Linked DNA regions of Homo sapiens. The protein of the gene in region 3 purifies or fractionates together with the protein of the main gene of each other region. This does not show direct contact. Each region holds a gene or a part of one and is shown on either strand. Other genes may lie near its edges.

Region 1 (3,652 bases), on a different chromosome or scaffold from region 3:
TATCATCAACACATATTTGATGGGCAGCTTTAAAACTAGTGGAGAAATGTTCCTAAATTTCATAACTACTGCAGGTGATAACAAACTAGAGACAGAGTACACACATAACTTTTTTTGTGATTAAATAAATGTACAAGATCCTGTAATTTTCATTAACATAGCAGTCTAAAAAATACACTAAAAACTGATCTGTCCAGACAACAATAAAAATGCCATGCAACTACATTTATACTAATGAAGGAGTATAGTATAATTATTTATTATACTAATAAATAATACTGATATTAATTTCATTGCTTCCTTTTGGAAGCATTATAATGTAGTCATTAAGAACATGGATTTTTTTTTGCTTGCCTTTAACAAGTAAATTACTTAACCATTCCTAGGCTATTTACTTAACAATTCCTAGGCTATTTATCTTTAAACAAAGGGGGGATTTTATTTTTTTATTATTTATTTTAAACAACTACAATTATCTTTATTTTCTTATTACTTTTTATTTCAATAGGTTTTTTGGGGAACAGGTAGTGTTTTGGTTACATGGGTAAGTTCTTTACCAGTGATTTCTGAGATTCAAGATGTAAAGTACTTTAAAAAGTTTCCTAGAACTAGGTAATAGCTAAAAATTGGTAGCCATTGTTACAATTTTTCTTTTTCCTACCACATGGAAGTGTTCTTAAAATCTGAAATGAAAAGGTAAATTGCAGAACAACCTGGAGAATACAACACAGAATCTAACAGTATCCGGTAGATAACCAAGCTACAGTAGCATTTATTTAATTAATTTTGCTTTGTCTCCTTCTCAAAATGACATTTTATTATTTGAATATAAAAAAGTGATAATAGGGTTAACATAAAATCAGAAAAACTGTTAGAAGATGCCTTTCCATATACCAATGATTTGATTATGATGTAAGCTTAATTAGCGTGTTTTTCATTTGCAATGTGATGTACAGTGAAAACACCTCAAAAACTTAGATACATGCTTTATAACTAAAGTCAGATCCATACTGCAGTTATAATTTAATTAGGTTATGGCAAAATCATGATTAAGCAGAATTTCATGTCTCTCTTTTTTCATCACTGATTTTTATTTTTATAATTAAAAGTAACATATCTGCTGAAAACATTACTAATTAAATAAATGGAAACCATATATTTAATATGTCCAAGTTAAAGCCCCCAGATTACCTTAACTGTGTCATAAGCTCCAAAATAAGAGGCTCGGTACACAATGATGCCCTGTACTGAAACACCAAACCCTTGGTATAAACCAGCAATTCCATCTGATTTTGCTATTTTCATAATACAGTCACCTAAACCCTTGAATTGTCGCTCCTCAGGACCTAAAATAAAGCCATTTAAAATCTATTAGCAACATTATATATCCAATAAACACTTTAATCAAAATAAACCTTTACAGATCTAAATGATCTGAAATTCCCACTTACAAATCTAACAAAGAAGGCACAAATCAAAATCCTCCCATTCTTTTACAGATAATCAAGATTTCAAGTACTATCTCAAAAGAAATAAATGGAAAATATTAATCTCTCATGAAAACAATTTACTTCAAACAACCTGCCTTAAAGTATTTTATTAAAGTTACCAGAAGTTACTAATTGAGGTTCAGAAAATAATTTGAAACAGGCCAGGTGAGATGGTTCATGCCTGTAATTCCAGTGCTTTGCGAGGCCAAGGCAGAAGGACTGCTTGAGGCCAGGAGTTCGAGACCAGCCTGGGCAACACAGTGAGACCCTGCCACTACAAAAAATAAAAAAAATTAGCCAGGAGGCTGAGGCAGGTAGATCACTTGAGACTAGGAGTTGGAGGTTTCACTGAGCTATGATTGTGCCACCGTACTCCAGCCTAGGCAACAGAGTAAGACCCTGTCTCTATTAAAACAAAACAAAACAAAACAAAGAAACACTTAGAAAGGAAAAATTGGCAGGGCACAGTGCCTCATGCCTGTAATCCCAGCACTTTGGGAGGCTGAGGTGGGTGGATCACGAGGTCAGGAGTTCAAGACCAGCCTGGGCAAGATAGTGAAACCCTGTCTCGATTAAAAATACAAAAATTAGCCAGGCGTCGTGGTGGTCGCCTGTAATCCCAGCTACCCAGGAGGCTGAGGCAGGAGAACTGCTTGAACCTGGGAGGTGGAGGCTGCAGTGAGCTGAGATCATGCCACTGTACTCCAGCCTGGGTGACAGAGAAAGACTGTCTCAAAACAAAAACAAAAACAAAAAACAAAAAAAAAAACAAATAAAAAAACTCCAGGACTGTTGAAAAGCAAAAAGATAAAGCTAAAAACTAGTAAGGATAGTTTAAGATAGTTAACATTTCATATGAAGGGGTCATATTTTTCCAGTATTTTCTGGTTTTATTTTTCTTTTCCCTTGACCAAGAATTCCTTGACAATATTTTAAAACTATTATATATGTACAATGTAATCTTCCAAAAATAAACTAAATCTTCCTGATTTGAAAGAGAAAACAAAACTATGGAACTTAAAGCAAGATAATATTGAGTTATTTTTACCCTCTTATTAATAAAAATAAACTTTCAACTTCCAGTTAAATAGATGAAACTCACATTTTTATTTTTGCTCAAACTGCCACCCCTTCTGAGACATTTTCTGATCACTTATTTAAAACTGCTATCACTCTCTTCTAACTTTTTTCCCTAGCATTTATCATTAAGTGACAATATATTTTAGTCATTTATTCATTTATTATTACTTGTGTCCTCCACTAGACTCTTAGGTACATGAGGCATGAGCTCTATGTCTTACATGGGGGGTGGGGTGTGAATATGTGTGCATATATATACGCATATACACACTCACACACGCCCTGTATCTGCAGGCACCCTGTATTCCAGAAGGCACTCAATATTTGTTGAATGAATCTCTGTACCCTAAAGAAACTCTGTTACATTAATAATAATGAAATAAAACAGGTTTAAAGCCAGATAGGCCAATAAGAGAACATGACAGAATGAAATCTACAAAATTTTGCCAGATGGAGAGAATAGGGAGGAGTGGTAATTCACCAAATAGAGCAGAAAAAGCTGAACCTATTTTCTTACAGAGGAAGATACTGCTGGGAAGCAAGCCATTTGATCACAATAACCTCAGAAAGACTTAGAAATTAGAGGAACTAACTACTACTTCCAGGATGAAAGCAAAGGAGCAGGGAGATGCTCAATATCCACAACCTCACCCTGAGCAGCCAAATGACTTACTGTGCTGCCACCCACAGAACTGAACACAAGGCTCCAGATTTAACGGGGCCAGTTGTGTGACCGCTGCAATCACTCAAACACTGAAAAAAGACTCACATAAAGATATTTTATTGTGAAATATAAGATCATCAGGGATAGAAAGAAACTAAAAAGAAAAAACATATACTAAAGGATCCGGAGTAAGCAAATTGGTATCTTAAGAGCAACATTAGAAACTAGAAGTCAGGGTAATATTTTCGTAATTGTGAAGGAAAATAATTTTAAACTCAGACTTTCATATATGTCTTACCCTTTTTGAGAGGGTAAGACAAACACTTTTTTTAAGATATGTAAGAGCTCAATTTATTTTTTTTCACTCTTTCTCAAAAAGTTACCAAAGAATATACTCTACCAAAAAACAAGGGTGTAA
Region 2 (3,652 bases), on a different chromosome or scaffold from region 3:
TGGACAAAAGCAGGTGGGGAAGATGATCTGGGGGTCTCAGTAGCCCCACAGCTTCCTATGAATCAGCTCTTTTGTGTTCCCCTACATCTTTAGAGAGTTACAGGGGAAGCCTGTGGATGTGTCTGGGGGACAAGAAAGATGGACACCACAGCAGATGGGAGTCCTGTCCTGTCCTGCCTCTGGAAGTGGGCACCTCACAAGGAGAGGAAGGGATGCTGTATTCCTAGAGCTTCCATCCCCCTCCTGCCAGAACCGAACAGCACCTGGGAGCTGAAGTCATGCTGCTGCAGCTGGCGGCCCTCCCGCAGGTCCCAGCAGCGCACCGTGTTGTCCAGGCCCCCTGTCCAGAGCCGAGTGCCGTAATCGGAAATATCAATGCAGCTGGCGCCGTCCGTGTGGCCCTGGAACTGCCTGGAGGGAGAAGGGCCCAGGCGTCCATCCTGGAATTCGAGCTGCCCCAGCATCGTCCCAGGTCACACTCCTCCACTCCCCCTGCACCGAGAGCGGCCGGGGGCTTGCCCAAGGTCCCAGCGCACCTGCCACCCACCTGACCATAGTCTGATTCTGCAGGTCCCAGACCACAATGTTGCCATCGCTGCAGCAGGAGAAGCAAACCTTGGCGTCGGGGCTGACGGCCAGGGCGTAGCAGGCTGGGGCTGAGGAAGTCAGCTCGGCCTTGATACGGGGGGTGGGCGCCGCCAGGTCCCAAATGGACAAGGTGCTGGCCTCACCGCCCACGATCAGACTCCGGCCATCCGGCAGCAACTTGCAGGAACGAATGTAGTTGTCTCGGTTCTGGGGTCGGGGAGAGAAGCAGGGGCTGGGGGTTGGTCCCAGGTGAGGTCTCTAGGAGCCTAGCTCAACGTGGGGGTCTCTGGAGCCCAATGTAGCCTCATCCTGATTAGCCTGCAAGCCCTACCCTGATTGGCTGGTGAGCCCCGCCCCTTTGACCTGCAAACACTGCCCCATCTGACTATAAGCTCCATCCTTTACCTATAAGCCCCACCCATGGTTGGCCTGCAAACCCTGTCCTGATTGTCTTGCAAGTCCAATTCAGATTGGCCAGAGCCCCACCCCTTTGGCCTGCAAGCCTTGTCCCATGCGACTACGAGCTCCGCCCCTCACCTATAAGCCCCGCCCTTCACCTGTAGCCCCACCCACGGCCAGCCTGCGAACACCGCCCCATTGGAACATAAGCCCCACCCCTCACCTGTGAGTCCCGCCCACTGTCCCACCCCGCCCTCACCAGGCAGTCGAGCTGGGCCACGGGCGTCTTGGCCCCAGGCTGGCCCACGTCCCACACCTTCACACAGCCCTTGCCGCCCGTGTACACATGCTGTGTGGAGCCGCTGATGGTGACCGCGCAGACCACCTCGCCATGGGCCAGCGTGTGCAGCTGCCGGGCGTGCCGCGGGATGCCCGCGCCTACCAGTGCATCCGAGGGGAAGGGAACCGGCTGCATCTGCCCGTCCGCAGACACGTGGAAGGAGTAGGCCCTGGAGAGAAAGCCGGGGCATGACCCAGCCCTGGGCACCACGCCCCCGCACCCGCACCTGGGAGGGCAGGGAGACGCCTTTGTCCTGCCTGGCACCCTCTGATGTGTTTTTTATTTTTTGTTTTGTTTTTTGAGAGGGAGTCTCGCCGTGTCGCCCAGGCTGGAGTGCAGTGGCCCGATCTCAGCTCACTGCAACCTCTGCCTCCTGGGTTCAAGCGATTCTCTTGCCTCAACCTCCCGAGTAGCTGGGATTACAGGCATGCGCCACCATGCCTGGCTAAGTTTTTTGTATTTTTAATAGAGACAGGGTTTCACCATGTTGGCCAGGCTGGTTTTGAACTCCTAACCTCAAGTGATCTGCCCGCCTCGGCCTCCCGAAGTGCTAGAATTACAGGCGTGAGCCACCATGCCCAGCCTGATGCGTTTGTTTCTTTTTTGAGATGGAGTCTCGCTCTGTCACCCAGGCTGGAGGGCAGTAGCGTGATCTGGACTCACTGCAAACTCTGCTTCCGGGGTTCAAGTGATTCTCCTGCCTCAGCCTCCCAAGGAGCTGGGATTACAGGTGCAGGCCACCACGCCTGGCTAATTTTTTTGTATTTTTAGTAGAGATGGGCTTTCACCATGTTGCTCAGGCTGGTCTCAAACTCCTGACTTCAAATGATCCTCCCACCTCGGCCTCCCAAAATGCTGGGATTACAGGCATGAGCCACCGGGCCCAGCCTCTGATGCATTTTTTAAAGTAATTTTCTCTGTTATTATTTTGTAGAGATGAGGTCTTGCTATGTTGCCCAGGCTGGCCTCAAACTCCTGGTTTCAAGTGATCCTCCCGCCTTGGCCTCCCAAAGCACTGGGATTACAGGAGTGAGCCATGGTGCTCGGCCTCTGATTTAGGAAAAAGGCAGGACAATGTGGTCAAAGGTGATATGGGACAGTCAGTGGGTGGCACAAATACACAGGGAGTCTAGGTTGTGGTGTGGCGCATGGTAAACAAGCACTTAATAAATGTTCGTTCAACCGAGGACCCACAAAGAAACCTTGAGTGTTCCAGACCAGCTAGAGGGTCTGTCCTAGGAGCCCCGGCCACCTGTGACCAGTTAAAACACTTAAATGAACTGAAATTAAATAAACATTTTCAGGCCGGCACAGTGGCTCACACCTGGAATCCCAGCACTTCGAGAGGCCAAGGTGGGTGGATCATTTGAGGTCAGGAGTTCAAAACCAGCCTGGCCAACATGGTGAAACCCTGTCTCTACTAAAAATACAAAAATTAGCCGGCGGTGGTCCGTGCCTGTAATCCCAGCTACTCAGGAGGCTGGAGCAGGAGAATCGCTTGAACCCAGGAGGTGGAGGTTGCAGTGAGCTCAGATCTCACCACCGTACTCCAGCCTGGGGGACAGAGCGAAACTCAGTCTCAGAAAACAAAACAAAACAAAACAAAACTTTTCAGCTCCTCAGTTGCACTGACCACATTTCAAGTACTGAAAGCCACGCCCAGCTGGTGGCGACTGGGTTGGCCAGCAGTGGGTCTAGAACACTTCCATCACTGCAGAAAGCTCTGTGGACACTGTGGCCAGATCTCCTCTGGTGGAGCCATCCTGGACAATGCAGGATGCTAAGCAGCATCCCTGGCCTCCACACTCCAGGCCAGGAACGTCTCCTCCCCCAGCTGTGACAACCACACGTGTCCCCCGACATCGCCCAGTGTCCCCTGGGGGGTCAGAGTCTACTTCTATGGAGAGCCAGTGGAACTCTGAGTAGCTTATGCAAGAGACTTTTTTTCTTTTTTCTTTTTTTTTTTTTGAGACTGAGTCTCGCTCTATTGCCCAGGCTGGAGTGCAATGGCACGGTCTCAGCTCACTGCAACCTCCACCTCCCAGGTTCAAGTGATTCTCCTGCCTCAGCCTCCCGAGTAGCTGGGATTACAGGTGCCCGCCACCACGTCCGGCTAATTTTTGTATTTTTAGCAGAGACATGGTTTTGCCATGTTGGCCAGGCTGGTCTTAAATTCCTGACCTAAAGTGATCCACCTGCCTCAGCCTTCCAAAGTGCTGGGATTACAGGAGTGAACCACTGTGCCCGGCCCACACAAGAGACTTTCTAGAAGGGAAGCAGGGAGACCCCAACCACAGAGGGTAAGACCTCAGAGGAGGTGGGGGG
Region 3 (3,269 bases):
CCAGGGCCCTGGCACTCTAAGACCCAAGCTTCCAGCTCTAACCACTGTGTCATGTCTGTCCTTTCCTCAGCAACATTGCAAACCTGTCCTCTACCCCATCCCGGAACAAGGAAAAGTTTGTGCAGGGCTCTGGGCCCGCGCTTCGCGTCCACATAGTGATTACAGCTGTGCCTAGATTGACCCCGCCTGGCATCACTGCCTTCCCCATTCCAACTCTGAGTACTCTAGGAACTCATTTCGTCCATACTGTGAATGGGGAAACCATCTGTTGCACTGGCCTAACAGTTTCTATGGCCTGCTCCACTCTCAGGCTACTCAGGGTCTCAGAGGGCACTTTCAGTGGCAGTTGGCGCTAGAAATCTCTTAATTAGAAGCCTCTAAACCCAGACGCCCATCTCTGATGTCTGTAACAAGATGGCTCTGAGGTTGAGCCACTTCCCCTGAAACTCCAGCCCCACCACCTTCAGCTGCTGCATTCTACAGTGTCCCCGGGACTAAGGTCCGGTTGTAGATCTCTGGCCTTAACAACCCCCAGCAAAGCCAAGCGGCCTTTACAAACCGTAGTAAACATTTTATTTACAAATTTAAGGCGTCCTAAGTGCCTTTGAGCCACGACCTCTGGGGCGAGTCAGAGAAACAGTTTAGTCAAACACCTCACAGTCGAACCAGCCTGCTTCCGGAGAGAAGTGTTCGGCTGGCTAGCAGGACACTGAGACTCCCCTCTGCTTTGGGCAGTGTCCGCTGCAGCCAGTCGGAGCAGCGTGGGGCGAAGCGTGAATGTCGGGAGGTAGGCTCCACGCTGCGTCTCCTGCCCTACCAAGTCGCCAACATACAGTAAGCACAAAACCCAGCCCATGGTTGGGAGGCTGCACGCAAGGCCCGGATCCCCTCCGCCCTAGTACAGTCTATAAGCAGCCAAGCGCGCCTTGGGCTGGCTCGGGGCTTTTGGGAGCGCTGCTGGCTGTGGGCTGTGTTGCAGGGAGAAGCTCCGAGGCGCCGCCGCCGCCAAGGCTGCTGGCGCAACCCGCACTGGTGCTGCTGCTACTAAGACTGCTGGCGCTGCTGAAGCTGAAACTATTGCCGCCGCCGCCGCTGCTCCCACCACTCCCAGCACTGCTGGCGGTAATGAGGGCGCCAGTGACCGGGGCCTTAATAACTGTTGTTTGGTGCAGAGAACGCTCACTCCCCTCAGTCCGCTCCGTGTCGCTGGGGGCCATGTCCAGGGACTCGGAGTCGCTGCTCTCGCTCTCAGCCTCGCCTTCAGAACGGCTGGGGCTCCTCTCGTCCTGCTCGCCATCCGCAGCCGGGGCTCCACCTGATGGCTTCTCGCCAGCCTCCTTGTCCTTGTCCTTTTGGGCCTGGGCCTCCTTGGAGTGCCGCCACTTCATCCGCCGGTTCTGGAACCACACCTTCACCTGCGCCGCGCCACACCGGGAGACAAGAAGAGACACCGAGATGAGACCCAGGTTTGCTCCTATCCGACTCGCGTGCACCCTCAAGCCACCTCCCTGAGTGAAAAAGCAACGCTTACTTGGCGACTCTACCAAGGACCAGACACTGTGGTAGGCGCAGGAGCCAAGGGGCAGCCCAGGGGAACACAAGAAGCCAGGAATCCTGGCCTAGGGAACCCACTAAGACCGTTTTCAAAATGCAACCCTCAGGCCCCAGGACTAAAATGACCTGAGTGACTGTTGGAAAGGCAGATTCCTGCACCCGACCCCCAACATACTCTCTCTCTACTCTAAATCCATGTAATTTTTTTATGCCAGGACCCCCATGAGAATCTGATTAAAGTTATGGACTCCTAGCCCAGAAAAATACACATATGCCCAAGATATTGCTTACAATGTCAAGGGTTTGGTGTGCCAGTGTTAAGAATTCCTGCTCTAAGTTGGCCCTCTCCTCTACTGCCACTACCCAAAGCAATACTTTTTTCAAAAAAGGAAACATGGGAAGCAGAAAGGGAAAGGGGTTTTAAACTGTTAATCACAGTAGGGTGGGGGCATTGTTGGGCTTTCAGTAAGACAGCATTTCTTTGGTGTGTTTGTACGCAAGAGCTGATAAGGACCTTGCCCCTGTTAAGGATAAACAAATTCTCCTGGGGGCTCAGAAAACAATGGAATTAAATGTGTGCAAAATTAAGGAAGGGGATAGAGATGGGGCAGAGAATCTATACAGATATATACGATCCCCTGGGGGACCCAACGCATTCACACAAGTTCCAGCTTCCCTTTTAAAAATAACATCCACAGCTGGTGGAAAACGGCTGGGCTCCTCGTGTGTGTGTGTGTGTGTGTGTGTGTGTGTGTGTGTGTGTGTGTGTGTACTGGGGAGAAGAGTTGTGTAATGGAGGTCAGAAAGAAACAGAGACAGCAATTTGGGGACCAAGGAGCTAAGAAAAAGAAGCCTGCCTCTGGCTTCTGACCTGCTGGGGAAAATCAGCACCCCAGAGCCAGAGCCAGTGCTATGGGGTGCACAAGAGTGACTCTTCCACAGTCAAAGCTCGGGTGGTGGGGGGTGGGGAAGCCCAGTTCTTAAATTTAAGAAAAAGAATAAAATTATTTCAGCCACAATACATTTCCTATTGTCTTGAAAAAATTCAAATAGGCAGAACCTGCTGAAATGCTCTTGGGTATTCTAAGAGAATCATTTTTCTTTCTTTCTTTCCCTCACCTCTCCCCTTCCTTCAGATTTTCTTCAGAGCCTAAGCCTTGTAATGTGTGGCCACTCCAAGCAGACTCCCTGCCCTCCTGGAGCTAACTAATTCCGTTTGAAATTATATTTTCACTTCCTCACAACTGGGGATTTCACAATCCAGCAGAAGCAGCAGGAGGAGGAGGAAGGAGGGAGGGTGAGAGGGAAAAAAACCCAACAACAATCTCTTGCCTTTGGGTTTTTATCTTTTCTGAAATAAACTGCCTCCTACAGCGAATTGCACTACAGTTGAGTGTATCAGTGTTATTTCCAGCGGCCCTTTTGCTTTCTCCGTGGTTCTTTAGCCTGTTGGCCAAAATAAACATGCAGTGCTTGTTGACACACATCTTGGGGATGAGCTCTTCTCTCGGTCCTTCTCCCTCACCCCATCTCCACCCTCCTCTTCTCCTGCCTCAAGTTGCGTAGTCCACAAAGCCTCTTGAAAGTCAAGATCTTGCGTTTGCACCGCAGGAGGCCAGTCGGCCGGGATGGAGGGGACCTACCAGACTAGGCCGTGCGCTGCTGCCCGCCCGAGGGCGCTGTGCGCTGGAGCCAGAACTGCCTTACCTGTGCGT

Evidence for each region.
Region 1: the proteins of HLX (region 3) and SLC25A31 purify together in Homo sapiens (affinity purification with mass spectrometry; one large-scale study listed by BioGRID and IntAct). This does not show direct contact.
Region 2: the proteins of HLX (region 3) and TLE2 purify together in Homo sapiens (affinity purification with mass spectrometry; 2 studies listed by BioGRID and IntAct, with this or other methods). This does not show direct contact.

Annotation. Positions count from the first base shown.
Region 1 is NC_000004.12:127,764,760-127,768,411, reverse strand, and holds part of SLC25A31 (ADP/ATP translocase 4), read right to left. Parts: intron 1,347-3,652; coding exon 1,192-1,346; intron 1-1,191. UniProt on the Homo sapiens protein: ADP:ATP antiporter that mediates import of ADP into the mitochondrial matrix for ATP synthesis, and export of ATP out to fuel the cell.
Region 2 is NC_000019.10:3,005,174-3,008,825, forward strand, and holds part of TLE2 (transducin-like enhancer protein 2), read right to left. Parts: intron 1,497-3,652; coding exon 1,247-1,496; intron 796-1,246; coding exon 548-795; intron 412-547; coding exon 264-411; intron 1-263.
Region 3 is NC_000001.11:220,882,341-220,885,609, reverse strand, and holds the end of HLX (H2.0-like homeobox protein), read right to left. Parts: coding exon 3,262-3,269; intron 1,416-3,261; coding exon 906-1,415; 3' UTR 551-905; downstream 1-550. UniProt on the Homo sapiens protein: Transcription factor required for TBX21/T-bet-dependent maturation of Th1 cells as well as maintenance of Th1-specific gene expression. Involved in embryogenesis and hematopoiesis.